7 linked regions of the Homo sapiens genome follow. The protein of the gene in region 5 interacts with the protein of the main gene of each other region in a biochemical or structural test. Each region holds a gene or a part of one and is shown on either strand. Other genes may lie near its edges. The genes, in order: GUCY1A2, KCNJ18, PREX1, GJA1, FRMPD4, RAPGEF6 and SCN4A.

Evidence for each region.
Region 1: the proteins of FRMPD4 (region 5) and GUCY1A2 interact in a test that uses a peptide from one of them, tested with the Homo sapiens proteins (one large-scale study listed by IntAct).
Region 2: the proteins of FRMPD4 (region 5) and KCNJ18 interact in a test that uses a peptide from one of them, tested with the Homo sapiens proteins (one large-scale study listed by IntAct).
Region 3: the proteins of FRMPD4 (region 5) and PREX1 interact in a test that uses a peptide from one of them, tested with the Homo sapiens proteins (one large-scale study listed by IntAct).
Region 4: the proteins of FRMPD4 (region 5) and GJA1 interact in a test that uses a peptide from one of them, tested with the Homo sapiens proteins (one large-scale study listed by IntAct).
Region 6: the proteins of FRMPD4 (region 5) and RAPGEF6 interact in a test that uses a peptide from one of them, tested with the Homo sapiens proteins (one large-scale study listed by IntAct).
Region 7: the proteins of FRMPD4 (region 5) and SCN4A interact in a test that uses a peptide from one of them, tested with the Homo sapiens proteins (one large-scale study listed by IntAct).

Annotation. Positions count from the first base shown.
Region 1 is NC_000011.10:106,938,477-106,941,976, forward strand, and holds part of GUCY1A2 (guanylate cyclase soluble subunit alpha-2), read right to left. Parts: intron 1,703-3,500; coding exon 984-1,702; intron 1-983. UniProt on the Homo sapiens protein: Has guanylyl cyclase on binding to the beta-1 subunit. Isoform 2 acts as a negative regulator of guanylyl cyclase activity as it forms non-functional heterodimers with the beta subunits.
Region 2 is NC_000017.11:21,691,375-21,695,322, reverse strand, and holds the start of KCNJ18 (inward rectifier potassium channel 18), read right to left. Parts: upstream 2,801-3,948; 5' UTR 2,609-2,800; intron 1-2,608. UniProt on the Homo sapiens protein: Inward rectifier potassium channels are characterized by a greater tendency to allow potassium to flow into the cell rather than out of it.
Region 3 is NC_000020.11:48,650,000-48,653,499, forward strand, and holds part of PREX1 (phosphatidylinositol 3,4,5-trisphosphate-dependent Rac exchanger 1 protein), read right to left. Parts: intron 3,499-3,500; coding exon 3,362-3,498; intron 2,708-3,361; coding exon 2,587-2,707; intron 1,585-2,586; coding exon 1,397-1,584; intron 1,057-1,396; coding exon 895-1,056; intron 208-894; coding exon 1-207.
Region 4 is NC_000006.12:121,442,146-121,445,645, reverse strand, and holds part of GJA1 (gap junction alpha-1 protein), read right to left. Parts: intron 2,030-3,500; exon of another isoform or gene 1,953-2,029; intron 1-1,952. UniProt on the Homo sapiens protein: Gap junction protein that acts as a regulator of bladder capacity. A gap junction consists of a cluster of closely packed pairs of transmembrane channels, the connexons, through which materials of low MW diffuse from one cell to a neighboring cell.
Region 5 is NC_000023.11:12,722,473-12,725,023, reverse strand, and holds the end of FRMPD4 (FERM and PDZ domain-containing protein 4), read right to left. Parts: 3' UTR 501-2,551; downstream 1-500. UniProt on the Homo sapiens protein: Positive regulator of dendritic spine morphogenesis and density. Required for the maintenance of excitatory synaptic transmission. Binds phosphatidylinositol 4,5-bisphosphate.
Region 6 is NC_000005.10:131,457,230-131,460,729, forward strand, and holds part of RAPGEF6 (rap guanine nucleotide exchange factor 6), read right to left. Parts: intron 1-3,500. UniProt on the Homo sapiens protein: Guanine nucleotide exchange factor (GEF) for Rap1A, Rap2A and M-Ras GTPases. Does not interact with cAMP.
Region 7 is NC_000017.11:63,962,919-63,966,418, forward strand, and holds part of SCN4A (sodium channel protein type 4 subunit alpha), read right to left. Parts: intron 3,326-3,500; coding exon 3,184-3,325; intron 1,760-3,183; coding exon 1,550-1,759; intron 1,291-1,549; exon of another isoform or gene 1,166-1,290; intron 908-1,165; coding exon 754-907; intron 397-753; exon of another isoform or gene 347-396; intron 1-346. UniProt on the Homo sapiens protein: Pore-forming subunit of Nav1.4, a voltage-gated sodium (Nav) channel that directly mediates the depolarizing phase of action potentials in excitable membranes.

The sequences.
Region 1 (3,500 bases), on a different chromosome or scaffold from region 5:
ATAGCTAATAGCTTCCCTCAAATGCTTGGAAACAGGCTAAATAGCCTAAAAGAACTTTATTTACCCTAGTACAAAATGTTGAAAAGACACTCTACTGGAAACTGAATGGAACTATACAAATTTCTGTCCTGGAAATTAATGTTGTTTTTCCGTTTAATCACTGAAAGCATATTACTAAACATAAAAAATCATGGTTTATTTTTCTTTACATTTTATTATCTATTTTAATGTTGACTTTTTAAAATATTTTACCTGAGGGACAAAATGTTCATTTAAACCCAAATATTTTAAGATTTATTTCTGGTGTCTTTTCATCAATTATTTATAATTTATAATCCAGATTTCCCAAAGGGGATTCAAAGAAATCCACAAAAAATTTCCTAGTCTTCACTTTATTCTCTCAACTAGAGATCATGTTCTAAAGCAATGAATCTCTATTTTAATACTAAAATTTAAACAGAAGTCTCGAGATAGTCAATTCTCAGCTTTTGGGGAATACATTATTCTGCATATTAAGACAAAAATAGGATGTAAACCAGATGTTCCCAGATTATGAAATTTAGAAAAGAACATATTCAAAGTGAAGGTAACTTTTAGCATATGTATTTAAAGATATTGCAGTCACGCCCCACAATATTGAAATGCTATATTTCTCATAGTTTGACTACATTCAGTGGAAATATTCATGTGTTTATATTATCAGGTTTTTAGTGAGTTCTATCATTTTTGTAATTGCTATAGCTAGTATTAATAAATGTCTTCTTTTTATATGCTGAAATAAATTAATGGAGGAGGCAGACACTATGCAAAATGGCTGGGAATGAGGCCAAATCTTTTTACATACATCCAGGGACCAGTAATCTTCTAAATGGCACTTTAAGCTCTCTTGCCTAAATAATTACAAGTACAGCCACCATGTAATTTACTGAAATAATTATCCACTCTTCTAGTTCCCATCACCATCTCAAGTCCATAGCACTTACCTTGTCTTTATTTTCAGAGCCAGAAGCCTCAGGCTTGGTTCTAATCACAAACGGGGTAGACAGTCGCAGCAGGACCCTTTCAAAGGTGGCATTAACCTTTGGAGATACAATCTCGAAGCAGTCCTCAAACTTGAGCACTTTGTGAGTGTCACATCGAAGCTGCTTCCTTAGACCTTCCCCCAACTGAAGGACTGACATGCTGGGATCAAACATCAAGTGGAAAGGGAAGGCTCTACAGAAGGTGTTGATGCTAATTCTGAGGTCCGCAGGAACTTGGGAGGTTCCCTGTGGAAGGTTCTTCATGATATTAGTATTTTCACATTCTTTGATAAGGAAAGTAAGACAGCTACAATTGCCTGGGTTTGAAACATCAGAGCATAGCTTCTCATTTGCAACCTGTTCCACTTCCACATCCAGCCGATAGATCTTCTTTCCTGCAGCCTTAATCATCCCCAGCATTGCAAACCCCACAATATGGTGAGGGTGGAAGTAGTGGAGCATGAGAGTACCTTCAGGGAGCTCTTTGCATAGGAAAGATGGTGACTCCAGAGTGGCCTGTTTTCCAAAAGAAGTTCTAATGTGTTCCAACAAAGCATCAAAGCCGTTAAAAAAGTCCTGCAAAGTGCCACCTACAGCTCGAAGGACTCTCTCATTCTCATGAAAGCATATATTAAAGAACTCTTCACCAAATCTTTTTTGAATTTCCTCAAACTTCAAACCTAGAGGTAAATGGGAAGCAAATGTTAGTGAAGTCTAATATAAATAATTGAATTTATAGCTTTTTAAGTGCTTATCAAAAGAGTAACTACTGAATAAAGTAACAAAGGTTATTTCTCTTAGATCCACAAATTTCCACATAGGTTAATTCACTCATCTTGAATCAGAAAATATAAATTTCAGTTCATCTTCAGGATGCCTCTAAAATGTTAATGAACATGAACCTTTTTGTTTGTTTTTAAATAGACTACATATTTTTAGACCAGTTTTAGAGTCACAGCAAAATTGAGCAGAAGGCACAGTTATTTCCCATATCTCTCTGCCCCGACACATGCACAGCCTGCCCCATTATCATATCTCCCACCAGAGTGGTACATTTATTACAATCCATGAACCTACATGATGCATTATTATCATCCAAATTCCATGGTTTACATTAAGGCTCACTCTTAATATTGTATATTCTGTGGGCTTAAACAAATGTATAATGATATGTATACACTTATCATATCACTTAGAGCATTTTCACTGCCCTAAAAATCCTGTTTATCCCTTCCTTCTCCCTAACTCCCAGAGCATCAGCTTTTTAAATGTTGCTAATCTAGCTGTTCACCTTTCAATAGCCTTGCAGTAGTTATCATAAATAATATATTTTTCTTTTTCTTAATGATTTCCCCATTCTTCACAGAATATCCAAGTTGCCTACATATTATGTCCATATTACATCCATATTATCATCTTACTTCTTATCGAAATGCATGTATTAAGTGGAAAATATAAACCAGAAAAGAAATCTATGGCACATGAATGGGGATAGGCATCAAGCTATCTGGTGGAAACAAAAGGCTTACATTAGCAATCTCAGGGAAAGACATGCAGGTCAGCTAGACCTCAGGGAAAAGGAGAAAAAACAAGAAAATAATAATGACAGAACTCTGGAATGATTTACATTCTTTCACCCACAAAAGTAAGGGCAGCCAAGCATGGAGGAGGAATCTGATGAGACAGAATTAAAGGTTATTGTTAAGTTTTCTCCATATATAATCACTCCCTGATGCCCTGGCAAAAGAGTTCCACCTTATAGTGCTGGATATTACAATGAAAAATAAATAAGTGTGCACAATGTATTCTATCGTAATAAGAAGCAGGATCACATGTGATCACAAGATCCCCCCCTTGAGGATGATATGAGGAAAAATGAGGGAATTTATGTGCCAAAGAGGACTATAACACATACAAAAGATTTTGGCCTGCATATTAAAGACAGCTTCTACCTAAACTCTATTGCTTCTCCTTTGACATTGGTTGAAATCAATACATGTAGTTTACATATTCATATTTTCTTGCCCCATTTCCATCATCTCATTTGAAGTCCTGCAAATCAGGCAGGACTGGGAAAAGAAGGTCACTTTGCTAGCGCCCCATTAGAGTGCAGAGCAATCTAGGCTGTCTACAGCTTAGCTGCTTTCCTACCTTTATCATTCCCTGAGTGTTCCTCCCAGCCAGAAGTGAGGCAAATGAACAGAGTGAATAATATTGTTTTTAAAATAGTCAAAGCACATCTAATATTCTTTAAGAGCTTACTATAGAGTCTAAAACTTCTGGTAGCCAAGAAGTCAGTTTGACAAAGAACTTCTTAAAATCAATGTGATAGGAAAATGAGTAGAAAACCTAAGTGAGAAACAGTCCCTTTATTAATAAGCATTTCATATTCATTTTGGTTTCATGGATTGGATGCTCAAGACTTGTTGAGAAAGTCACTTATTAAGATAAAAATATCACCACTCATGTCACATTGCC
Region 2 (3,948 bases), on a different chromosome or scaffold from region 5:
AGTGGTTGGGTGTGAGGGTGGATGGCTGTATGGAGGAAGGATGGATGAGTGGATGAATGGGTGAATGGATGAGTGGATGAATGGATAATAGGATGGAAAGATGGATGGATGGATGGATGGATGAATGGATGGATGGATGGATGGTTGGATAGATGGATGGATAAGTGTGAAAGTAGATGATTGGATGGATGGATGAACAGAAGGGTAGATGGGTGGGTGACTGAGCGGATGGGTAGATGAATGAATGGAGGGATAGATGGGTGAATGGGTGGATGGATGGATGGATGGGTGGATGGATGGGTAATGGGTGGGTGGATGGATGGATAGACGAATGGGATGGATGGATGGGCAGATGATTGGGTGGATGGATGGGTGAGTGAATGAGTGGATGGGTGAGTGAAGAAGTGAATGGATAGAGGGATGGCTGGGTGGATGGGTGGGTATATGGTTGAGTGGGTGGATGAACAGATTAATGGATGAATGGGTGACGGGTGCATGGATGGATGGATGGATGGAATGTTGGGTGATGGATGGGTGGAGTGAATGAGTGGATGAGTGGATGGGTGGATAGATGGACAGGTGGATGAGTGTATGGGTGGGTAAAGAAATGAATGGATAGAGGGATGGAAGGGTGGATGGATGGACAGATGGGTGAATGGATGGGTGGGTGGATGGGTGGGTAGATGGATAGATGGATGGGTGGATGGGTGGATGGATGGGTGGGTAGATGGATAGATGGATGGGTGGATGAGTGTGAGGGTGGGTGATGAGTGGGTAGATGGATGGATAGGGTGTTTGGGCAAGTAGGATAGATGACTAGATGGATGAGCAGGTGGGCACATGGCTAACTACATGGATGGGCACACATCAGTAATTTGCCAGAGATTTGCCTTGGGTACACATACATCCTACATGGTCCCTGCAATCCCAAAGATGCAATTTCCCCACCTGTCAAAGGGATCCCCCTGCCTTCCTATCCAGTGTGCCGTGAGAATCAGAGAAGAGGTTGGTGGGAAGGGGCTCTGAGGATCTCCACGGTGAGCCACCTGACATGCTTCTCACCTCCGCACCTCCCAGCCATGGAGTTCATGGGGCCTGCCCTTTCCAAGGTTACAGCCGAGGCTGGTTTGTCACACTGGTTTTTCTGGCTGGAATTAAGGCAACTGTTGGTGAGTCACCCCCACATCATCAGCCTCCTGGGACAGGTGACAGTGGTTTACAGGCACACAGACCTAGATTCAAATCCCAGCTCTGCCCCTCATAAGCTGTGTGACCTTGAGTGAGTCACTTCCCCTCTCTCAGCTTGTTCTGAAATGGGATGGCCTGCCTGGTCTCTAGTGGCCCTTCAGTCCCTCTTCACCCTCCAAGTCCCCCAATCCCCAGCCCCTTCTTCCCCATCCCTCATCATTCTGGGAGCAGAAGCCACAGGCCTACACTTTGCCTCTCTCAGCCATTCCATCCTCAAAACTGATGGGGACACAGAGGTTCAGAGATGGATGGGTGGATGGATGGACGGGTGGATGGATGGACAGGTGGATGAGCTGCAGAGTTTCAGAGAGGTTCTGTCACAAGCCAACATCAAACAGCTGGGGACCTCCACGGCAGGGACTTGGGTCCACCCCCTTCCCCGAGTGAGCCAACACTGTGCTTGGCCCTGCATGCTTGGCAGCTGGCTGCAGTCATCCCGATGCTCACAGCCCTGCCTTGGAGGAGGGACAATTCTCCCCTCTGGACAGATAGGAAAACTGAGGCTGAGAGAAGCTAAGTCACCTGCACAGTCACCTGGAGCTGGAACTCTGAGCAGCGAAGGTCGGATATTGCCACAGGGCCATGGGGAGCCAAGCAGGGGTGGGGGCCAGAAGTGTGGGCAGCAGCATCTATCCACATCCTGCTGGTCACCTGGCTTGCACCAGGCTCTCCCAACCTCGTCCCTCACTCCCTACTACCTGAAAGGGGCATTCCCCAGACCACAAATCCAGCTGGATTTGTTTTTATCTAGGAGGAAGGCAAAATTAGCTCTACTCTACACAGGGGTACTGAGACGTAGAGCAGAGAAGCGAATTTCCTGAAGTCACAGGGCAGGGCAGCACCCTGCAAACAGGAGCCAGCCTTCCGGATGCCCTGGCCAGAGCTCCCGCCACCTGCAGGGGCCACAGCAGCCGCCATGTGAGCTCACCCCGCCAAGTCCCACAAATGCTTCCCGGGGTTATGGTCACAATCCTGGATGGGGAGGTGGGCTGCAGGGGCAGTGCTTCCCCATGACCACGACTGAGGGCCAACAGGCCGGGCTGGCCCACAGCGTCCCGCAGGGGAGGGCAGGGCCTGGGCTGAGGATGGGGCTGAAATCCCCCACGGAACAGGGCAAGGCACTTCCCCTTCCTGAGGCTCAGCTTCCCCTGAAAAATGAGGCTGGTGTCGCCTGCCAGGCCTCTCAGAGGGTGTGCCATGAAATTGAAGGTGGTGACGAAGCTGCAGTCCGGGCACTGGGCCTCGCCCCAGCGGGTCTCTGGGAGGTGGCAGCCGTCACCCTCCCTGGAGAGGCCTGGCAGCCCCCCAGCTGACTGGGGCCTGAAACTCCCCATCTGCAAAATGAGGAGACCCCACACACCTCGGGAGACTGTCACGAGGGTAAGCCAAGCCCTGGCTTCAGTATCTGTCCCACAGAGACGATGCAGCAGTGTGGGTCCTGCAGGCGTTCACTGTGACCGGCGTTCCTGACACCACGTAGGCACTGAAAGCAGAAACAGGCTTCCCAACAGGACGGAAAGCTGACTGTGCCCAAGCCTCCCTGTGGCCTGCTGGATGTCCTCAGAAGCCCCCCTGGCCCGCAAGGAGCCACAAAACGCACAAGGGCAGGATCTGCCTCGCTGTTCCATGCTCGGGATGCGCCCAGCCCACAGAGGATGCTCAGAAAGTGGAAGCTGCAGGAACCTTGAGTGACACTGACCCCTCACATTCTGTGGCGTAAAGATGGGGGCTGGACATATGGACCCCAGAAAGAGGCTGCACCAAGCGGCTAGAAAAGGCAAATGTCCACCCTTAAGCCCTGAGGTGAGGCCAGGTCAGAAGATTCTGGCCCCACAGGGTGGACGACAGTCACACCAAACACCAGGGAATGTTTCTGACGGTATTTTTATCTTGAGAACATCCTTCTTCACAGAGGGTGGGGGCAGGAGGGACAGAGGGTGTCCTTGGCCCCAGGCCCCTGGGAGAAGCAGAGAACAGAGGCCCTGCAGTAGTGCCCTCTGCTGGGGTGGCCATCACAGACACTGCCCCATCCCTGGGCTCCATTAAGTCCCACGAACAGGGGAGACCTGGAGGGTCTTGGGGCCCTTCTAGGACTCCTGGCTCTGCCCCAACTTGCTGTGTGACCTGGAGCAGGGCTCTGTCCCTCTCTGGGTCTCCCTCTTCAAGTCCTCACTGGGCACCGAGGACTTGAAGAGGAAGCATTGGGCGCCTGCCTTCATGGGGCACCCTGCCTCACAGGGCAGACGGTGAGAAGTCAGCAGTCATAAGTCGCTGGGCCCTCTGGAGCCCAGGGGAGGTGTCTAACCCAGTGGCAGGAGGGGTGCTTCCTAGAGGAGTATCTGCCAGTGGGGAGGCAGCAGCGAGCAGCAGGGGTGACAACCCCGCCTGAGACTAACCATAGCACAGTGACACAGCTAAGAGCACCAGAGTCCTGCAGTCTTGGTGCAGATTCCAGCTTCACTCTCCAGGCACTGGGCCTTGGGCAAGACCCACCCTGACTGTGTGCAAACCAGGGGGCTGGCCCAGCTACTCCACAGAAGCCCTGCCAGCCCTCCATTCCAGGATCTAAACTATTCGGGGTTTGTGGGGAAGGTGTGACGAGATGGGCACAGCCTTGACACCATCATATCAGGGAAGCTCAGCGTGTGCAGGCACAGAGGCTGAGGCATCACCCCAGGGGGCCTCAGATGTCATATTAAT
Region 3 (3,500 bases), on a different chromosome or scaffold from region 5:
CTCCGGGTCAAGGCCGATGAGGGAGGGTTTGCGTCCAAAGCGGATGCTGAAGGACCTGCCCACTGAGGGGGTGGTCTTGGGGTAGGACACTTCCATGAGGTTGATGTGGCAATTGGTGGGGCAGAAGTCCAGGCCACACAGCGGGTGGGGCTCCAGGGGGGCTTGTTTGAAGGGTGGGCTGACCCTGCTCTTCAGTTGGGCTGCAAACTGAGAAAGTGGAGGCCGTAAGGTCGTGAATCACAGGGCAGGGTCTGGAAATATTGGCCCATACCCAGTACCCACTTTATCCTGGCCTAGGCCAGATGCCCCACAGTTGGACAAAATGCCAGTAGCTCCAAATGAGAAGGGGAACCCCTGGACTGTGTTTCACGGCTCAGGACTGCAGGGAAGGCCTGGAGGAACCCAAGGCCTCGGGGTGCCCACCCCATGCATGGCTCCATTTTGGCTGCCCCTGAACCATCCTTGAGGCATTGTCTCTGCCCCACCCTCAGTTCATGAGGTTCAGGGTCAACGTGCCTCTCCATCCCTATGGCGATTGGAACCAGGTGAGGCAAGTGACCTAAGCCAAGCCAACCAGAACTCCCTTGGAGTTAATTTTCTCCTGGGCTTGCTGAGGCTAGAGCTATCAAGGGCCAACGTGTCCCCACCACATGAGAAGGGTTTGCCTGAGAGTGAACCCAGCGCTAAGGAAAACGAAGCCAGGAGATGCGGAGAGGCCGCACTGCTATGATGTGATAAGTTCACCTCCGTCCTTTTCAGTAATACACACCATACATTCTCCTGTTTGTTTCAGCTGAGTTGGGTTGGGCTTTGTAATTTACAACCCAAATATCCCAGGCTGAGATGCTATGTCTGGGACCTGTGGCAGAGACCCCGGAGGGAGCACGCAGGCACCTCCTGGTAGCAGGCAATCCTCTGGCCAATGCTCTCCAGCTTGGTGTCACAGATGTTGCGGAACTCAAAGTGGGGCATGGTCACGATGGCGCTGCTCAGGGCCATGAGCCGCCTGCAGTTCTCCACGAAGACGCTGTCATTGGCAGCAAAGGCCTCGAGGATCTGCAGAAATGTCAACAGCTACTGAGCATTCCCTGTGTGCCGGGAAGATTTTAAGCGGTTCACCCACAGTGACTCCTGTACTACTCGTAATACCCCCCGGGAAGTCAGGTGTGTTGCTGGCCCATATTGCACGGGAGTAAACTGAGGCTAAAGGGACAAGCCACTCTGCACAGTCCCACGCTACCTAGTGGTGGGACAAGGACCAGAATTCAGGACTCCAGGCTAAGCCTGAGGAAATGGGATTCGGGTGTCCCACCCAACTCCTTCTCCCAACCTTTGATAAGAGAAACTGGCTTCAATCCCCCAGGGTAGGGCAGGGCCAGGCAGTGCCCAAGGAGACCTTGGCGGTGAGGCCGAAGCAGCCGCGGGGCTCCACGATCTTCTCCAGCACATGGCACCTGACGCCTGCCGTGCTCACATACTCATACACCACGCCGTGTTCCAGGTGCACGTTGTCCACAGTCAGGGTGACCATGGGGCTGTCCTCACACAGGCTCAGCCGGGGACCCAGGGACAGCAGTGGGAAGGCTGGAAGCCAAAAGAGGTGACATCTGAGCAGAGATCAGAGGGAGGGAGGAAGGCGAGGCGAGGAGGATTCTGGAGGAAGCCTTCCAGGCAGTGGGAACAGCAAGTGCAAAGGCCCCAGGGCAGGAGTACATTCCGCCAGAGTAGAGAGGCGAGTGGGGAAGTGATGGAAGGTGTTGGAGAGCCAGTCTGGACAAGGTCACACAAGCCATCCAAGGCCTGGCCCTGAGGACAGAGGGAGCCATCGGAAGGTTCTCTTCTCATCTGGGGGAATAGCCCCTTGGAGGAGAGGAAGTCAGAACAGGGAGAGCCATGAGCAGGCTACTGCCACCGTCCTGGTAAGAAATGATAGTGGCTTGGACCAGGGAGCTGAAACGGGCAAGGAAACAGATTCTCCCCGAGAGCCCAAGGAGGACCACAGCCCTGTGGACACCATGATTTCAGCCCAGTGGGACTCGGACTTCTGACCTCCAAAATTTAAGTAGTAACTGTGTGTTGTTTAAGCTGCTGGGTTTGGGGCACTTTGCTATAGCAGCCATCAGAAACTGACATAACATCGTGGGCATCGCGGCCGTGCGCAGTGGTGCACACCTGTAATCCCAGCACTCTGCGAGGCCGAGGCAAGAAGATTGCTTCAGCCCAGGAGTTAAGAGACCAGCCTGGGCAACATAGGGAGACCTCATCTCTAAAAAAAAAACTCTAAAATTTAAAAAATTAGCCAGGTGTGGTGGTACACGCTTGTGATCCTGGCTACTCCGGAGGCTGAGGTGGATCACTTGAACCAGGGAGGTTGGGGCTGCAGTGAGCTGTGGTCACAACACTACACTCCAGCCTGGGTGACAGAGCCAGAACCTGTCTCCAAAAAGGAAAAAAAAAACAAACCTGCTGGCATGGAGGTGGACTGGCTGGGAGGAGGGGAGGGGAGGGGACAACAGGAGAGGACCCAGCCCCTCCGGAGTCTCAGTCCCTCTGGAAGCTCCTGTCATGCCATGCCCCGTCTATTACCTGAATCAGCCTGGTCTTCCTCCTGGGCCTGCTCGCCACTGGGGTCCTCAGTGGAGGCCTCCTGACTGGCTCGTGCTTCCTGGGCATCCTCATGGGTGTGGTAGATCCACTGGTACAGGCCCTGCCAGAAGCCAGAGTAAGGGGACAGCCATGGTGCCGGCAGGTAGGGAGGAGGGGACAGGGCCGAGGTGTGAACTGCCCCTGGGTTCCAGAGCTCTGGAAACTCACTGACCACCAGTCACACTCAGCCCTCACCGTGCACAGTCTATGCTCCATACAGAAGCCAGGGGATGTGAAAATGTGAGGCAGGGACATGGGTGCAGACACGTCTCTCCTGTGTCCCCAGGGTCTACAAACATGCCTGGTGCACAGCAGGTGCCCAACACACACACACTGAGTGAACCAGTGAATCAATCAATGAGGGAATCTCGCCCTCCACCAGAACCCTGGCCCCCAACCAAATGGAGTATCCACTTTCCCAACCCACTTGACTATGTGCCCAACATGCCTATGTGGTGAGGAGAGAGGGTCTGGTCACACCCATTTCACAGCTGTGAAAACCGAGACCCCCGGGTATCATGGCTCAGCAACTCTGGTTTAAGGATGCAGCGGGAGCACAAAGCTCAGGCCCAGCTCCCTCTTGTTGGGTCAGCAGCTCCACCCTACTCACAACCAGTGGTACATGCAGGCTTTTCTCTAAAGAGAGGACAGCCCTCAGCCACCCACCCCCACTCAGCAGGACTTCTTTGACGGCCCCGGTTTCCAGTAAACTTACCAGGGCCTCTTCGCGCCGACTCCGGAATGCCTGGAAGTGCTCCAGGACCTCAGGGGCACCATCGTTCATCACGTTGCTGCCATTGACCTTCAGAATGCACTGACCAGCACAGAGCCCTGCAGCCATGGCCTCAGAGCCT
Region 4 (3,500 bases), on a different chromosome or scaffold from region 5:
ACAAACAAACAAAACCTACTTCAGGGTGTTTTCTCCAGCCAGAAAAGATTGGTTTTCATCTTTCATTGTTATATACTTTAAAGTTCCCTTACTGGGCTTTGGACCCTCAGGCTATACATCCCATTTAACTTCTTATCAATATCTAGCTATCTAAAGTCCACGCCTTCTCCATTACTGAGGATAAGAAAAAGATCTGGCCAGGCGTGGTGGCTCACGCCTATAATGCACTCACGCCTATAAGCACTTTGGGAGGCGGGTGGATCATGAGGTCAGGAGATTCAGACCATCCTGGCTAACATGGTGAAACCCCGTCTCTACAAAAAATACAAGAAATTAGCCAGGTGTGGTGGTGGGAGCCTGTAGTCCCAGCTACTCGGGAGGCTAAGGCAAGAGAATCGCTTGAACCCGGGAGGCGGAGCTTGCAGAGATCACGCCACTGCACTCCAGCCTGGGTGACAAAGAGAGACTCCGTCTCACTAAAAAGATGTAAGTCAGTAGAAACCAACAAGAATCCCCAAAGTTGTCTAGTTCAATTTATGCTTCTAATTGCCGATTATCCATTTAGCTGATAAAAATTGAGGTTCTCAGAGGTTCTCAGGGTATAGGAAATATTTAGCTATAGACAGAGCCAGAAGAAGATTCACAATCCCCGGGCAAGTCTTTTCAATGCCTCACACTGGTTTTAAAAGTACAGTAAGGCTGCGCTAAAGCTAGAAATGTTTCCAGGCTTTGATATACACAACCTTAGCCAGGGCTGAAAGCTGGGAAGAAGTGAGTAACATGATGTGGCAGGCATAGGGAATATAGGCTAATTTTCAGCACATAGTAGTAATTGGAGGATTTAGAAAAGGACAAATTAGTCAAAGATTGTTTAATAATTAAAAACAAGCAAAGCTAAGACTTTGCAGGAGCTTAGTAATGAATTCTAAATAGAGTATCTAAAGGTAGGATTATTTAGGCTTCTTAGAAATATGTTCACTATCTGAATATAAAGGAGTTTCTCTTCTGGTGTTGAACTATTGAGCTGTATCTCCTTGTAGGAAGTAAATGAAATCCAGGGGAGTCTTCTTCCTCAGTAAGCAACATTACATTTCTGTCTAATGACTGCATCTTCTGGCCATAGAGAACAAGAAAAAATGAAATGGGCACCTGACCTGGGATTTCCTGGACCGAACAAAGAAGAGATGGCTGAGCCATAAAGCTAAACTATGCACCAGCTAGATGGTACCACGGTATCATGGGTACATTTGATGACAGCCCAGGGACTAGTGCCAAAGAATGCTGAGTAAGAGTGGGAGGTGGGTGTGAAGGCCACAGAAATAACACTCCCCCAGTGGTCATAAGAAAGGGAGCTTCCCTTTTACTTAGGAAGGGTCATTTTAGATTCTGAAGTGACAAGTTAGGAAGTGAAATTGATGTATGAAAACAGCATCAATTTAAAACAGCAGTCAAATAAGAACAAAGGCTTGAAAGGCTGACAAAGACAGTTGAATAGCCAAGGAAAGGCTTGAAGTGAGGGAGTAATTTAGCCGTGATGGACAGTTTGATGGTGAGAGAATGTGAAAGAAAAAAAAACCCTACAATTTAGCAGAAAATACTAGACTGGAAATGAAGAAGTATAGTCCATGAGGGTCAGACAAACAGAATCTTTGGAGCTATATCAATAGACAGTTTCTATGTGATGATGTGTAAAATTGGCCCTAATTCTGTTTGTAAAAAATTACAGTATTTTGCCAGTGTCATCTGCTTTTGCTCACATATTTCAATTGCTAGGGGAAAAATAACAAAAACAATCAAGTATAAAAAGATAAACTTTGCATACATCTCATCACATTCATGCAACGATAGAGCTGAAGACAAACCTATCATATCTAGAAATATGACCAGGCAGAACAGAAGTTATTTTAGCTAGGATTTCATCATTACTCAAAGTAAAATATGATTGTGTAGATGCTTATAGTAATTCATCACTAAGTTTATTTACATTCTAGTAACAAACTATAGAAATGATCCCTGAAAGTATAGTCTTTATTTACATTCTATAAAAAAATTCATGATACATGACTTTCATATAATTTTGAGATTCTACAAAAACACTCCACAGTTCCATAGTATGTGAACTAAGTCATCAGACAGCTCTTCATTAGTTCTTTTTTAATACTCTAGTAACTTAATTGCAAAGTTGTCTTTTCTTTAAGCACCCATGCAGTTGTCATTTGCATTAATGAGTTATACTCTTTCATCTTAATAAGATACGAATTATCGAATTGGACACCGAGTATCCTGTAACATGTAGCTACCTGTCGATCTCCACTATCATAGATACCATCAAATAATGTTTAATGTGACAGCTGCCCAAAAACAGGTAACAAAAATTGTTCCCTTTTTTTTTGGTAGTTGCTCACTTTGCCATGAATCAAATTTTGGCAACTGGTTGTTCCTCCCTGCTGCACCTTCCCAAACTAGTTTAATATCTTCATTTTTCCAAGTCTTGTATGGTAAGTTAATACCCTCTTATAATAAAAGGGCATAATTATATGTTTACAGAATCCCTGGCATTGATCTACAGACTATAAACTGCACTTTTATTCACCAGGGGGAAACAGGTATATTTCTTATTTGATACATGAGAAGACCAACGCAGCTGGACATATCACATATATTCATGCCTTCACCTCTAGGATACTGAGTTGGTGCTTTATATGTAGACCAAGGTCTGTCTAAGAGGAGTTGTGCAAAGTTCTTGTTAAGAGCAGAGTCTTAGCAGCTGGACCACGCTTTTTGCCGTCTATGCACCATGTTAGATTACATTTCCATTGCTCTTCATGGCCCCCTAGACTGGATGGATGCCCAAAGCTACAGGCACTAAGTGTGACCAGCCTGAGGCTCCTCTGGCCCCTTTCCTGAACTGCATCACAGTCACTTGGCAGCATTTGTTAAAAACATACATTCCTGGTCTTCACCAGTCTGAATGAATCTGAATTTCTGGAGGTGGGGCCTAGGAAGTAAGGTTTTTTTGGTGTTTGTTACTATTCTTGACATTTCTGGCCCTTTCTTGTTCAAAATATTTAGGAGTGGGAGAAATGTCAGGAAAGCAGAAGGAACAGTCTAAAAAATCCAAGGGGCTGAGTACCAGGAGCAGCAGCTCTCTGGGCACCCGGCATTGAGGTCAGCCTTGGCTCCACAGCCCCTTGTCACTCCTTACATCTCCATCTGCAGCTCCCTGAGAGCAGAAGAACTTAAACGCTTTAATTCAAATGAGATCTCTTAAAAATAAAGCTTTGATTTTAAATTACATTTGACTATGCCTTTTGCTAGAGCATGTGCCGAAGTTGCAGTCAAGTCTTTCCATGCCATTAATATACTAATAGTTATTAGAATTAAGTATTTTACTATCGACTTTAAATATTTTTCTCAAGAAGAGACAAATGTAATGAGTTGAGAATGGAGACTTAAATAAAGGTAAATAGGATTATTGAAAACTAAAGTGAAATTTGATA
Region 5 (2,551 bases):
GACAATGGTTATCTTTGGAAGTTGGGTTTAAGGGGATTATTACTTTCTCCATCATTTATTTCTGTAATGTTTATTTGATAATATTAAGGAATTCCCAATTTTTAAAATGCAAAAACGTCATTGTGGTTATGTTTAAAAGTTCTCACAGGATATTCTTACTGAAATATTCATGGGCTAAGCACTATGATGTCTGGGACTTGCTTGTAAATCATACAGTGGGAGAGGAGGTGGGTAGAAATACAGAAAATAAGATTAGACATGAATCGGTAGGTAATGAGTCCACATGAATTCATACGATTGTGTCTACTTTTGTTTGAAAGATTTGTGATAAAAGATTAATAAAAATGGTAGGAGATAAACTTGGCAAAGTAGACTGGGGACTAAACATAAAGAACCGTGAGTATAAGGAAGGTTTATTCTCCAGTTCAGTGCTCTCCAGATTTCAGTGAATGCAACCCTACCTGCGACAATATTGTCACATGCATGCACCAGGCATATGCTTATTTATTCATTCATTCATTTATTTATTTAAAATTATGTACATGTACCATTGTACTATTATGCCATTATAAAACATACACAAACATAAAAAAGCTAGATAAAAATAAGCACAAGTATTGTTCTAATATGTTCTTCCTACACTCTATGGACCTGGACCCCAGTTAGGAGCCCCATGCTTAGTGAATGTGGGGGCCCCTTGAGGTTTTCTGAATAGCAAAGAGTTTATTTATAAGAAACAGAAACTTACTGGCGCAGTAATGGGAGGTTGATTAGAAGGACCCAGAGCTACTTCCCTGAGGCTTCTCAAAGAACTCCAATGGACTGGGAAGTTGTTCTAACTAGATACGTAACTTGAACAAGGATGGCCACTTCCTTGTACACTTCTTTTACATATATGCAATACACATAATGTGTTCTGCACACAGTCAGGATACAATATGCATATAAAACAAACATTCCCCCACATATTATCTTGGGCAATATATTTAACACAACGATTATGATGATAATAATAGCTAACATTAATTGAATACTTACTCTCTGCCAGGTATTGTGGTAAGAACTTTACATACACATTTTTACTCAAAACTCATGACAACCCTATGGAAATCGATCTTATAATTGATTTTCATTTTATTATGAGGAAATTGAGACTAGAAAAAGTAGCTTTCCCAACATAAAAGGGCTAGAAAATGGCAGAGTCAAAATTTTAATCAAGATGTTTCTGACCCCAAACCCCATATCCGTAAGAACTCATCCATATTGCCTCCAGAGAGAATAGTGTCCAAACCAGCAGATTGTTGTGATGATTAAATGAGATAATATAGTTAATATGCTTAGCACACTGTCTGACATAGGGCACACATCCTATTAATAGGTTAGGATTTTAGTACACAGAATGATATTTACTAAGATTTTCCACAGTAAACACCACTAATATCTCTCAATATCAAAACACCAATATTTATAATTATAATTGTAATGAAATAATGTTTTATTATTTAGTTAAACATTATTTATAATAACACACACCTAAACTCCTTTCCTTTGCTGCCATCCATAACCACGTGCGGCTTTTGTTGTTGAGTCCCTGTGGAATGGCTGACTAGAGAGAGATTGCAATTGTGGACTGTGTTATGACTCCTTCTCAGCAGGCTACAAAAGTAGAAATATTTGCACCTGGTGTACTCCCATCATGTTCTTAAGGAGCCACCTGTCTAAGTAGGAGTGCATGTAACTTGAGCACTGAATGACCCAGGAAATACATATATACATATCGATTTTATTTTATGACTGCAGGGTACTTTTAGAGATGTGACAGTCCTGGAAAGTTCTTTGCATTCCATTGGTTTCACTTGAACTGGTCAAATATACCACTTCCATTTCTTTCTTTTTTTTTTCAGATTTCATATTTTTATCAGCCAATCCAGATTAAGTATTTATTTAATAAATACTTAACTATTTACTCATGGCTCCCATGATTACAGTAGCCATCTCTCCCTGATTTTCTGGAACATCCAAGATTTGAGATTTTGTCCCAGTACTACGCTATAATTCCAAATTTGACTGGCAGCCTTAGCCTCTGTAGAGGCGGTGATGCATGAAGCCCTATGCTGAGAGCTGTGATCTGAGATGAGACTCACAGGTGCTGGTGTGTGGTCTGGTCTACATTACTGAATCTGTACTTAATTTTGATGATCATTAAATGTTCCTTTTTTTAAGTTTGCAAATACTTTACTAAATGTCCTATCACTCTAAAGGGAATTTTAAGTTTCGTAGTTGAGTTGGGATGAGGGGAAGATAATGTCTTTGGTTTGCAGATTTTTGACATTTAGTCAAAGCAGATCTTTCCATCAAATAATTAATTTTGGTATTATTAATTCCATACATTTTATGTAATGAGATATTCTATAACTCTAGGTGTTACCTAGGAAACTGCCCATCATCCCCTCTGTTCTTCTCCCCGGGAAGTTTTTTAAATGCTAGAACCACTGTGAAGAGCATTTGTGCTGACACAGTAGAATCCATCCCCACCAATTTGTAGCCCCAG
Region 6 (3,500 bases), on a different chromosome or scaffold from region 5:
CTGGCTAATTTTTATATTTTTAGTACAGACAGGGTTTCACCATGTTGGCCAGGCTGGTCTTGAATTCCTGAGCTCAAGTAATCTGCCTGCCTTGGCTTCCCAAAGTGCTGAGATTACAGGCATGAGCCACCATGCCAAGCCAACAATCCTTTATTTGGCATAGCACACAGTGATACACTTTGGTACAAATCTGTTTGAGACAGGAGAGAAGGGAGACACTCTGAGTTGTAAGCAGCCCTAATGCTGCCACAATCTCCATTTACTAAGAAAAAGTAAAGGATAAAACAATTCACATACAAGGCTAACTCCTGCTACCGTGGAATACTGCTGCATGGATCCACTTATATGCAGATTTTTTTCAATAAATTCAGTCACCCCTCCGTATCTGAGTGTTCCACATTCACAACCAAATGTGGATCAAAAATACAGTTTCCTTGGATGTGAAACCTGCTAATGCTGACTTTATGTATCCACAAGTTCCTCAGGGTCAACTGCAGGACTTGAGTATGTGAGGATTTTGCTATCTGTGAGGAGCCATGGAACGAATGCCCCACAGATACTGAGGGACAATGGTATCATTTAATATGAAGCACCAGCAGATGAAAATAGACAAAATAGAGAAATAGTTATTAATAAATGGAATGAGAGATGTAAAGTTATCATCAGTTGAAGAAAATTAGATTGTTTAACTCAAAACTCCCAAAATATTAACTGAAAATTATTAGAAGCATGAAGAATGCAGTAAGGTACTAGGTACAACACTGATATTCATATGCATTAGAATACTTAGGCAGAAACCATTAGAAAACTTAAGGATCCCATTCATAATATAAGGATCCCATTCACAACAGCAATAAAAGATATTAAACATTCAAACAAATGTTCAAGATTTACATGAACACCACTATAAAAACTGATATGGTTTGGTTCTGTGTCCCCACCCAAATTTCACGTGGAATTGTAATCCCCACATGTCAGGGGAAGGACGCAGTGGGAGGTGACTGGGTCATGGAGGCAGATTTCCCCTACGCTGTTCTCATGATAATCAGTGAGTTCTCAAGAGATCTGATGGTTTAAAAGTGTGGCACTTCCCCCCTCACTCTCTCTCTCTCTGCTGCCATGTAAGACACGCCATGTTTGCCCTTCGCCTTCCACTATGATAGTAAGTTTCCTAAGGCCTCCCCAGACATGGGGAACTGTGAGTTAATTAAACCTCTTTTCTTTATAAATTACACAGTCTCAGGTATTTCTATACAGCAGTGTGAAAACAGACTAATAAAACAACTCCACAGAGGAAATAAAAGAAAACTGAAACAAGTGGAATAAGTGTTCTTGGATGGCAAGAGCCATTGTTACAAAGCTATCAAATGTCCACTAAAGTAATCTAGGTATTTAATGTAATCTCAATGAAAACATCAACAGAACTTTTTCTTTTCTTTTTTGAGACAGAGTCTTGCTCTGTCACCCAGGCTGGAGTGCAGTGGCATGATCTTGGCTTACTGCAACCTCCACCTCCTGGGTTCAAGTGATTCTCCTGCCTCAGCCTCCTGAGTAGCTGGGATTACAAGCATGTGCCACCATACCTGGCTAATTTTTTTGTATTTTTAGTAGAGATGGGGTTTCACCATGTTGGTCAGGCTGGTCTAGAACTCCTGAACTTGTGATCCACCTGCATTGGCCTCCAAAGTGCCAGGATCACAGGCGTGAGCCACCGCGCCCAGACATCAACAAAACTTTTTAAAAGAACTACATAAATTGATTCTAAAGTTGATATGAAACAAATAAACATGCCAGAAATAGCCAAAGAAAAGTATGAAGAGAGTCATAAGGGGTTTGACTAGCCCTATCAGACCTTAAAACCTATTTTACCACTTCAGCAACTAAAACAGTAAATGAATAGACAAATCAATGAAGCAATGAGTGCAGACATAAACCCAAATATGTGTTAGATTTCAGTACATAATAGATGGCATTGCATATTTTAGAAAAAAAGATTGATTAATGATGTTGGGTGAAGAAGTCATTTGGAACAAAGAAAGATATATTTCTTTATCTCACTGTTTACATAAAAATGAATTCAAGATTAATAAAAAATGTTGTCTAGGGTGTTCTAAGAGCTCTCATTGTATTAGCTCATTGAATACTCTTAACCTTATTAGGTAGGAACTACCAGGATTTCCCATTTGACAAATGAGGAAACTTAGTTCACATAGACAACAAGTGCCAACACTGGATTCAAACCTAGGCAATTCTTTGTTCTTAACTAACCACAAAATGCAGAAACTCCAGCAGGAAAAAAAATAATACATCTACATAAAAATAAAAAAATTTCTACATGGCAAAAGTAAACACCACACACTGTTTTAAATAGCCAAAGTCTGGAAATTTAGAAATATCCATAATGTGCACTCCACAATACAAAGGAGTACTTCATAGTTGTTTAAAAAATATGAGACAACTTTATAAGAACTGATTTTAAATAATCTCCAAGATAAATTAAAAAAATTAGCCAAGGTGGTTTTAAATATATATTTATATGCTTGCTATATGGATAGAGTATTTCTTGAATGAAAAAAGGTAACAGTATCTCTGGGGAGAGGAATTTGGGTGGATTAGGGACTGGGTGAGACAAAGTTACTTTCGCTGTGTACTCTTTATCTTTAAAATTTTTTCCATGTACATGTCATGTCTATTCAAAAAGTTAAAATTATTTTATAATTATAAAAAGTTGTTAATTATAGCCAGAACAGAATGATTCACCTTTGCCATCTCTGCTGAAAAGAGTATATTCTTTGATCTACCTGAACATGAAGTACAAGAATACAAAACAATTATCTTAAAAAGAATACAAAAGAAACAAAGCAATGATCTTTACATGAGCTATGAAAATGTGCAGAACAAATATTCTTTGTAACAAAACAAATCTTTTAACCAAACAAAGCCTCTTAACCAAATCTCAGCCCTTTCCTATCCACTCCCTTCTTTGGGCTACTGTCCATCACATCTTCTCTCAAATCACTCTCTTTCATTGGCTTTGATGACACTATCATAACTGTGCTACTCTGTTTCTTGTACTGATCCTCCATCTCTTTGGCTAGACTCTTTTTCCTTACCCTCACACTGAGTCATCATACTAAGGTATGGTTTTTAGACCTCTACCACTTTCTTTCTACCCTCTTTTTTATACAGAGATCTATTCTCTCAGTGTCAATCAATTTTCTTCATAGTGGACTCTAAAACTGAGCCCGTAATTTTCAAATTCTTTACTTGATGCTTCCTTTACAAACAGGTTCCATTTCTAGCCTTCCAAGTGTTTATCAGTGGCATCTTTATTCCTCTGTTTTAGACTTAGCTGTTTAAAAACTGTGATATAGGTGGTATTTTACAGATAAGAAAACCTATCTTCAGTTTTCCACTGACACATTGCTACTATATGGGAGAGGCAGGATTCAAATACAGGTGCAGCTGATTCTAAAGACCACTCTGTTAATCTCTATTCA
Region 7 (3,500 bases), on a different chromosome or scaffold from region 5:
AGAGATCTGCAAAGTCCTGCAGGGCCCCCAACTCCCTGGCACAAGGCAAGCCGACCTGGGGAGGGAACCACATCTCTGTGTGTCAGAATTCCTTTTCTCTATTGTCCCTTTTTCCTGTGCTTCCTCCTTCCCTCCTGCCTCCCTACTTCCCTCCCTCTCATCCATCCATCCATCCATCCATCCGTCCGTCCATCCATCTGTCCATCCATCTGTCGTGTCGTGTCTATTCACCCTCTCTCATCATGACATCCTTATTCTTCTGAGATTCAGCATGTGGCACAGGGATTGGGGAGTCTGTCACTCTGTTTGGGCAGAATTTGACTTTTGGCCTTTAACTTTTACCCAGAGAACACTTGAGGAGCAGGATGTCCAGTTTCCGGAACATTGGGCCTTCTGGTTAGTATTATTAGCCTGTGCTTCCCATTGGGCAGTCCCCAAGGCCCTCCCGGAAGCCCCCAGTTCCCATAGCAGCCTGGCCTTGCAGCTAGAACTGGGCCAGGTTAAGACAGGACTATATTTGTGACAGCCAGAAATGGCTGTGATAAATATAGTATAAATATAGCCATTTCTTCTATGCCAATATTAAGTTACTGTCCTGAAGCTGGTCCAGCCAGGCCCCACCCTGACCTCAGGGGCCTGAATGGGTAGAGGGGGCACAGGGCACTCACCTTCCATGGCATCCCTATCCTCCTGAATCCAGTCCAGCCAGGCTCCACCCCTACCTAAGTGGGCACGGGGGCACAAGGCACTCACCTTCCATGGCGTCGGAGATGCCGCTGTCTCCGCTGCTGCTCTGCCTCGGGGCTCCCTTCTCCCCTTGCGATGTGTCCAGGCTGCCATTGCAGTCTTTGCCATGGGCTGGGTCCCCATCTGCCTCCCCACCTTCCAGAGCTTGGGCGGCCTTGGCCTGTAGACCAGCAAGAGTGACTGGCAGGAAGTCCAGCTCTGAGCCAGAGGGATGGACTAATTGACCCTCAGAGCTTCTTCCAGAGTCCTTCAGGGTGGCAGCCCCTCTTCCTGGCCTGTGTCAAACTTAGTGCAGGTGGGGGAGGGACCAACCTCCATGGTGGTGGGGGTGACAGGGTAGGGACCAAAGTGACTAAAGACCCTCTGCCCTGAAGACCCTTGACTCTGATGCCCTGACTAACCCTCCACTTGTTGACAGAATGAGAAACTGGTCAGCCGCTCCCTGTGGCCTCATCAGGACCTGCCCTTCCCTCAGTATGGACCTATCCACTACCCAGAAAGCATCACAAAATCAGAAATATTTGAGCTGGAAGAATACTTCAGGTTTAGCTACTCCAGATTCCTTGTTATAGACAGGGAAACTGAGGCACAGAGCAGAGAAATGCTTTTTCTACTGCTTGGATCCCTCCATCCCCCTGCCACCAGCAAAGCTCCCAGCCCAGGGCCTTCTGCTCCTTCTGCCTCAAAACCCCTACCCCTGTACCCTCCCTCACCCTCGGCCCCCCAGGGAGAAGCCAGTGGCAGCCCCGGCTGAGGGCAGGTAGAACCCTGGGTCCTCTATCTCCTTTCCCTGAGTCCAGACCTTCTCCAGCTCCTCCTGGTGCTTTTTGAACTTCTCAAGCATCTGCTGAAACTCCTCCTCTTTCTCCTTATCCTCGGCCAGGGTGGCCTCATTCTGCTCGGCATATGCCATGGCCACCACGGCCAGGATCAGATTGATGAGGTAGAAAGAGCCCAGGAAGATGATGACCACGAAGAAGATCATGTAGGTCTTGCCAGCTGCTCGAAGGGTCTGGGAGTGGAGGGAGAGGGAGTGGAGGGGTCCCATGACGTCCACCTCCTTTGACCCAGTGCCCCTTTCCATACATCCATTGCCCGCATGGGTAAGCAGAGCCCCTCCCTCACAGAGCCTGGGGGACTGATGGCCGTCATTGGCATGCTGAGCCATGTTCTGGGGAACTTCAAAATATCTACTTGGGACTCAAACGTTTCTGGTCTCCTGGCTCAGAGGAGGACCGAAGCCAGGCATCCTGTTATCAGAGAGCCAGGATAGAAAATTGGTGAACATGGGTTTGGGGTCAGCTTGAATTCTAGCTTTGCCACAGTGCCTGGCACCTAGTAAGAACTCAACAAATAGTAGCTATTATTATTATTTAATCAATTTATTTATTTATTTTTAGACGTAGTCTCACTCTGTTGCCCAGGCTGGAGTGCAGCGGTGTGATCTCGGCTCACTGCAACCTCCACCTCCCAGGTTGAAGTGATTCTCCTTCCTCAGTCTCCTGAGTAGCTGGGATTACAGGTGTTTGCCACCAAACCTGGCTAATTTTTGTATTTTTTGTAGAGATGGGTTTCGCCATGCTGGCCAGGCTGGTCTCAAACTTCTGACCTCAAGTGATCTGCCTGCCTCGGCCTCCCATAGTGCTAGGATTATAGGCATGAGCCACTGCACCCAGCCAGTAGCTGTTATTATTTTTGTTATTGTTATCAACACCATCAATGTTAGAAACATCACATGGCATCAGAAGGCACTGTCACTCCAGGCTCAGCCTGCCTTCCCTGCAAACAGTAGAAGGCAAATAAAGTATGGGCAACATCGAATTTCTGTCTTTCTTTTTTTTCAGACGGAGTCTCGCTCTGTCGCCCAGGCTGGAGTGCAATGGCGTGGTCTCGGCTCACTGCCACCTCCGCCTCCCGGGTTCAAGCAATTCTCCCTCCTCAGCCTCCTGAGTAGCTGGGAATATAGGCCCGTGCCACCATACCCGGCTAATTTTTGTATTTTTAGTAGAGATGGGGTTTCACTATGTTGGCCAGGCTGGTCTCGAACTCCTGACCTCGTGATCCGCCCACCTCTGCCTCCCAAAGTGCTGGGATTTCAGGCGTGAGCCACCGCGCCCGGCAGGCAGCATTGGATTTCTAAGCTGCCCTACTGGCTATCATGAGGCCTAGGGGGTCCTGGGCTTGTGCCTATGCTAGGTCCAGACCTTGGCTCTGAAAGCAAAGGTGTGGAAAGAATTAAAGCTGTGGCTTGGCTCGGGGCAGGTGTCTAGTTTCAGAGAGCACAAGCTCCTATAAGGGCACTGCGGGAGTCCATGAGGAGATGGCCCAGTTCGGGGGTTGGCCATCCTGTGGTAGGCCCCATCAGGCCCTGAAGAGGCTGCAGGGATGGAGGGGGAGTGGCTGTAGGGTTGGGGGGCAGGGTGGGGGCAGCTGTACCAGCTGGAAGAGGTTCTCCCAATAGTCCTGTGTCATGAGGCGGAAGAGAGCCAAGAAGGCCCAGCTGAAGGTGTCATAGCTGGTGTAGCCATAGTTGGGGTTCCGCCCGGTCTTGATGCACTCATAACCCTCAGGGCAGTGCCTAGGAATAGGACAGGGGGCTGGGTTTAGGGTGGGAGGAGCACTCCAGCTGGGGGCAGATAGGGACCCCAAGGGAAAAATTCCGTCAGTTCTGCCTGTGTCCCCCAAACAGAAAAGTATTCCATCCATGCCCACAGGTTTCCCTGCACTCCCATGCCCCCCAGGTCCTCATCTCT